Linked DNA regions of Homo sapiens: region 1 is linked to region 2. Evidence: fine-mapped expression QTL. Tissue or cell type: whole blood. Region 2 holds a variant in brackets; the other region holds the start of a gene. All regions are shown on one strand. Distances are from middle to middle.

Region 1 (2,739 bases), 130 kb after region 2:
TCCCAACACCTGGGAGACAGAGGGGGCCTTGGCAGGGACTTGAGGGCTCCCTGTGGGAGGGCCAGGCGGTCAGGAAGCTCATGGTGGGTTCCCCACTGGCTTCCTCCTTTGCTGAGCTGCCAGCTCTCTCTCCGACCTTCAGTTCATTTGTCTCTCATCACCACCTTCCAAACCCTGTCTCCCCCAAATCCCAAACTGCCCTCACCCTGACTGACTCCTCCCAGATCCTCAGTGCTCCACAGTGCTATGGTCCCCAGCCTCTTGGAGCCCTTCTGAAGACCCCTCTCCCTGAAGCTGGCAGGCCAGGGACTAGCCCAGTGGGGCAGGGTACTCACGGTTGGCCTGGGCCTGAGGTGGGAGCAGGTTCTGGACAGATGGCCAAGGTTGCAAATGTGGCTGCTGGAGCTGTGTGTGGAGACCTGTCTTCAACAGTCCCTCCCCCGCTGACCCCCCCACCGACTCCACCCCTTCACAGACGAACACCCTGTGGGGCAAGGGGCCAGGAGCAGACAGAGGCGCCCTCTGTCTCCTGGGCTGGAACAGGCGGCCCTTGTCTCTTTCCCAGCCTTGCTTGCCCCGTTCCTTTCTCTCCAGGCAGCAGTGGATGGTGCAGGGGAAAGAGGTGGGAAGGAGGTCCTGGGAGGGACACTGGATGTCTTACCCCAAGCTGGGCCTTGCAGTACCTGTGGCTGGCTGTGCTGGTTGAGCCCGGTAAGGGGGGAATTCTGCTGAGGGGGTCTTAGTCTGTGGCTCCTCCATGGGGCCTCACTGAGAGGACCCTCAGTGAGAAACTTAGTCTTGGGAGTCTGAGAACCCACAGAGGGATTTCAATCCAGGACTCTTCTCTGGGGGTCTCAACCTGGATCCCCCTCTGTGTGTGGGGCCTCAGCCTGGGGTTCTCTGAGGGATCTTGGTCTGTAGCATCCTTTGTGGGATCTCATTCCAAGGGGCCTCTGTGTGTGTCTCAGATTGGGCCTCTCAGTGTTGAGCTCCCTTGATTGGTTGCCTCCCTCTTCCCCCCTCAGCATACACACTCCTGATTAGACATGGGTATGGTGGCAGCAGCCCCCAGTATTGAGAGGACTAGGACCCTGGGACCCCTGCCGAACGAGATCTGTCCAGGCAGCTCCTCTCCCTGACCAAGTGGGGGCGCTCGTGTGGCTGGCAGGGAGCCCGGGTCCAGACCTGAGGGCTCAGGGCAAGCGGCCTGATTGGGCTGTCTCTGGTCTTCAGAATCGACCACGGAAATTTGACACCTCCGGGCTTGGAAGCAGCTCTCTCCTCCTTCCCCGCTGCTTATAAACCTCAGCCCTGAGGCTCCAGCTCACTCTACCCCATCTCCTTGCCGGGTGAGTCTCATGGCTGACCCTGGAGGGAGGCTGGAGATCATTTTTTCTTCCTGGGCTCCCAGGTCCCTCCCCCAGAGCCAGCTCAGACAGGAATTCAGGAAGGAGCTTTGGATGATCGAGCAACAGCGCGTGCAGGAGTGTGTGACGGGGTGGACAGAAAAGAGAATGCCTCTTCCAGCCCCACCCGCCGCACCCCAGGGGGTTGTGAGTGCCTGTACTAAACCCGTCCTGGAGCAGGGAGTCAGAGACGCCCCGTTCCAGGACCCTTGTCACCGGGAGACAGGAGCGGGGAGGATCTGTGGGGTCCTGGGTTCAGCACTCTGCCCTGCTGCCGCTGAGGAGAGGTAAGGGTGGAGCGGGGCAGAGAAAATGGGTCTGTTCAGACGGAGCCAGCTCTGACCACAGGGGACATTTGCCAGACCCTGTGCTTCTCTGCTGGGAGGAGCGGTTAGAGTGTGTGTGGGCGGATGCGAGTGGCCGGAGACCAGGGCCCAACATAAACAAGCTTTGGAGACAAACAACCTTATGACCTGTGAGTCTGGGTGAGACAAGAAGGGATTCTTGAGACAGACACGCCACAGAGGGGCCACCAGACTTGAAGGACTCCAAGAAGGACCTTCAACTGAAGACCTCCTCTCAAGTAGAGGGGTCTCCAGATCGAGGGATCACCACAGAGGGGTCCCTAAGCCACAGACATTTAAAAAGGATCCCGGATTGTGAGACCTACAGAAGAGGGGGTTTCTGGAGCTGAATCTCCTGCCCCCACCAAAACTGAGATGCCGTTGCCTGGTCTGCTGCCCCAAGCTCAACCCCTGTCCTCTCCCTCTTTCCCCATATGCCCCCTCCAGGCTGAGACTGATGTGATAACACCAAGGCAGGGACCTTCTGAACCATTCCTGCATCTTGGGGCTCCCTGACTCTCCCTCTCTGCTCCTTCTCTCTTCCACAGGTCAGCCCTGACAAAGGTCAGCTAGCCCCTTGAGGACATCAGCTTTGGCCTCAGGGTCCTAATGGCAGCAGAACCACTGACAGAGCTAGAGGAGTCCATTGAGACCGTGGTCACCACCTTCTTCACCTTTGCAAGGCAGGAGGGCCGGAAGGATAGCCTCAGCGTCAACGAGTTCAAAGAGCTGGTTACCCAGCAGTTGCCCCATCTGCTCAAGGTAGGCAGAAGTCTGGGACTGAGATTTTGTGAGATGATGATTATGGGACACTGTGTTTAGGACGTGATGGTGCCGAGTACGGTGAGGTGACCACAAGAAAGGGTGTGGGTGGCTGCATGTGTCAATGGTTGCAGGTTTTCTTTTGTTTTTTCGAGACAAAGTCTCACTCTGTTGCCCAGGCCGGAGTGCAGTGGTGTGATCTTGGCTCACTGCAACCTCCATCTCCG
Region 2 (2,500 bases):
GCAGGTGCCTGTAATCCTAGCTACCTGGGAGGCTGAGGCGGGAGAATCGCTTGAACCCAGGAGGCGGAGGTTGCAGTGAGCTGAGATCACGCCATTGCACACCAGCCTGAGGGACAGAGCAAGACTCCGTCTCAAAAAAAAAAAAAAAAAAGAGACCTGCCTCTGTCACCTAACCTACCAGCTGTACAGCCTTGGGCAAATTACTTCATCTCCTTAAACCTCAGTTTCTTTTCTTTTCTTTTCTTTTTTTTGGGACAGAGTCTCACTCTGTCGCCAGGCTGGAGTGCAGTGGCGCGATCTCGGCTTACTGCAAACTCCACCTCCTGGGTTCAAGCGATTCTCTTGCCTCAGCCTCCCGAGTAGCTGGGAATACAGGCATGTGCCACCATGCCCAGCTAATTTTTGCATTTTTAGTATAGACAGGGTTTCATCATGTTGCCCAGGATGGTCTTGAACTCTTGACCCCGTGATCCGCCCGCCTCGGCCTCCCAAAGTGCTGGGATTACAGGTGTGAGCCACCGCGCCCGGCCTCAAACCTCAGTTTCTTTATGTATAAATGTAGAAACTAAAATACTCACAGGGCTGTCCAGAAGATTAAATGAGGTAACACATGTTTGTCTAACACAGTGGAGGCACTTAAAGCAATGAAATAGATGTTCAATATAAGAGTACTACAATTTCCAGCACTTTCTTCTTTCCTGACTTCCCAGGTCCTGGACAACTGCCTTCAGAGTGAGTGTGTGTGTGTGTGTGTGTGTGTGTGTAGGAGGGGAGCGGGTGCATGCACGATCACAAGCACGTGTGTGTTGAGGTGGGGTGGGGAGCAAAGCTGTACAGTTATTGTTCAGAACATAGCAGGACCCTGGGAAAGGGAAAGGGATATAAAAAGGACCTTGTCGGGAGGAGGCACACGGAGACTCCCTCCTCCAAAGTGGATTTTGCCCAAGCTGGATCCTTGGAATTCGAGGCAAGACTGTTCCCAGGGAGGGGCCTTCTCTTACAGGACTAATTCCAGCCCTCTACTGACTCAGTCTCACGAGTTGACCTCTGACTCCCCTGCTAGACTCCGTGAAGCTGAACACTGGCCACTGGCTCACCTCCTGAGCCAAGGAGCTGCCAGGAAGAGGGGAGGAGGACTACAGTTATCTGTCTCACTTTTTTCTTAGTAGTAATGTGGCAGCTGGAGTCTGCCAAGTAGGGGCTGTCTAGGAACTACATGAATTGTTCTGTACCTCTGCCATTCGCAGTTGTACTTGGCAAAGCTTGCCCTGTCCCAGGCTTCCTAAATCTGACCACCAAAGACTCTCCTACCCACCAACCTCTACCTTCTTGATTCAAGCAAGACATACACATTGAACTCCCAGCTCTCAAGGACAGGATGCCTAAGACCCTACTTACCTGTGAACTGAGGACTCAAGGCCTGAGGATTATGGATAATATCTTTCCAAAGCAGTTCAAATTCTGGTATCCTAGCAACATTCTGAAGTAGTCTTACGAGATCCCGACCAATCATCAGACATTCCATGAACTTGATAGGGAAGAGGAAGTGGGGGA[C/T]AGGAAAGAGAATAAAAACATGGATTGTTTACCTGCTGGAGGGAGGACAAAGGAACAACATGTTCTAGGGAGGGAAGGAAAGAGGGTTGAAGAAACTATGATTTCTTCTGGAACCAAAGGATTGGCTCCTAGCTGTTCAGGGGAAGAGAGCTGGAAGCTGGGGACTGATATCAAGGATGAGAGGTTAGTGGGAAGTGCTGAAGCCCTGCTGGCTTTCACATTAATCTACCTCCCTCTCCACTCAGAACTGTTTCAATCCAGTTCAAGGAAGATTAAAGTTTCAAAAGGATGGGACTGGCAAGTTGAGCCCCAGAAACCCTAACCTCAAACTTATTTTGTCTAACAAAATTCTGCAGTATCTAATTCTGTGGGTCCGATTCTGTGGTAGAAATGTCTATATCTGTGTAGTCTAAATGAAACCCATTAGCAACGTGTAGCTAATGCAACTAGAGAAGTGAATTTTAACTTTTTATCTAACATTAATTTTAGGCTGGGCAGAGTGGCTCACGCCTATAATCCCAACACTTTGGGAGACTGAGGTGGGAGGATCACTTGAGGCCAGGAGTTTGAGATCAGCCTGGGCAACAAAGCAAGGCCCAGTATCTACAAAAATAAAAAGTAAAAAAAATTTTTAATTGCCACATGGGAGGTCTGATAGAGGACAATTCATAATCCCACTAGACCATGGGAATTACCCAGGAGAGTAGGTGGGGGACTGTGTCATGGTAGGCACACAAGGACAGCTTATGTCTGTGGTATACAACAGTATCCTTGAAGCTGACCAGGGAAATCCCAAAGATGCCAGCTTAACAGGTAGCATTTCTAGGAATTAGGGCTATTTTACACTAACTCCCCCTCCTTTCTACCCTCATCTGTTGATGAATGATGGAAAACACCAGATCTTGATGCACCTTCATCTCTAACAAGGTATTTCTGACTCCACTGC

The links. PIP is the estimated chance that this variant, and not a neighbour inherited with it, causes the effect.
Region 1: it holds the start of S100A13, and the variant in region 2 is fine-mapped to the expression of S100A13 in whole blood (TOPMed, PIP above 0.99).

The regions. Positions count from the first base shown.
Region 1 is chr1:153,626,093-153,628,831 of GRCh38, reverse strand. It overlaps S100A13 (S100 calcium binding protein A13), which reads left to right and starts at 1,327. Exons shown (of 3, transcript NM_001024211.2): 1 at 1,327-1,349; 2 at 2,299-2,512. The coding sequence starts at 2,360. S100A1 (S100 calcium binding protein A1) reads right to left here and starts at 398. Exons shown (of 3, transcript NM_006271.2): 1 at 336-398. RefSeq lists enhancers at 1-253, 1,080-1,905.
Region 2 is chr1:153,751,307-153,753,806 of GRCh38, reverse strand. INTS3 (integrator complex subunit 3) reads right to left here. Exons shown (of 30, transcript NM_023015.5): 8 at 1,399-1,528. Among named protein-coding and RNA genes, the nearest start is that of SLC27A3, 23 kb to the left of the region's middle. The variant C/T (reference allele first, on the strand shown) is at 1,555.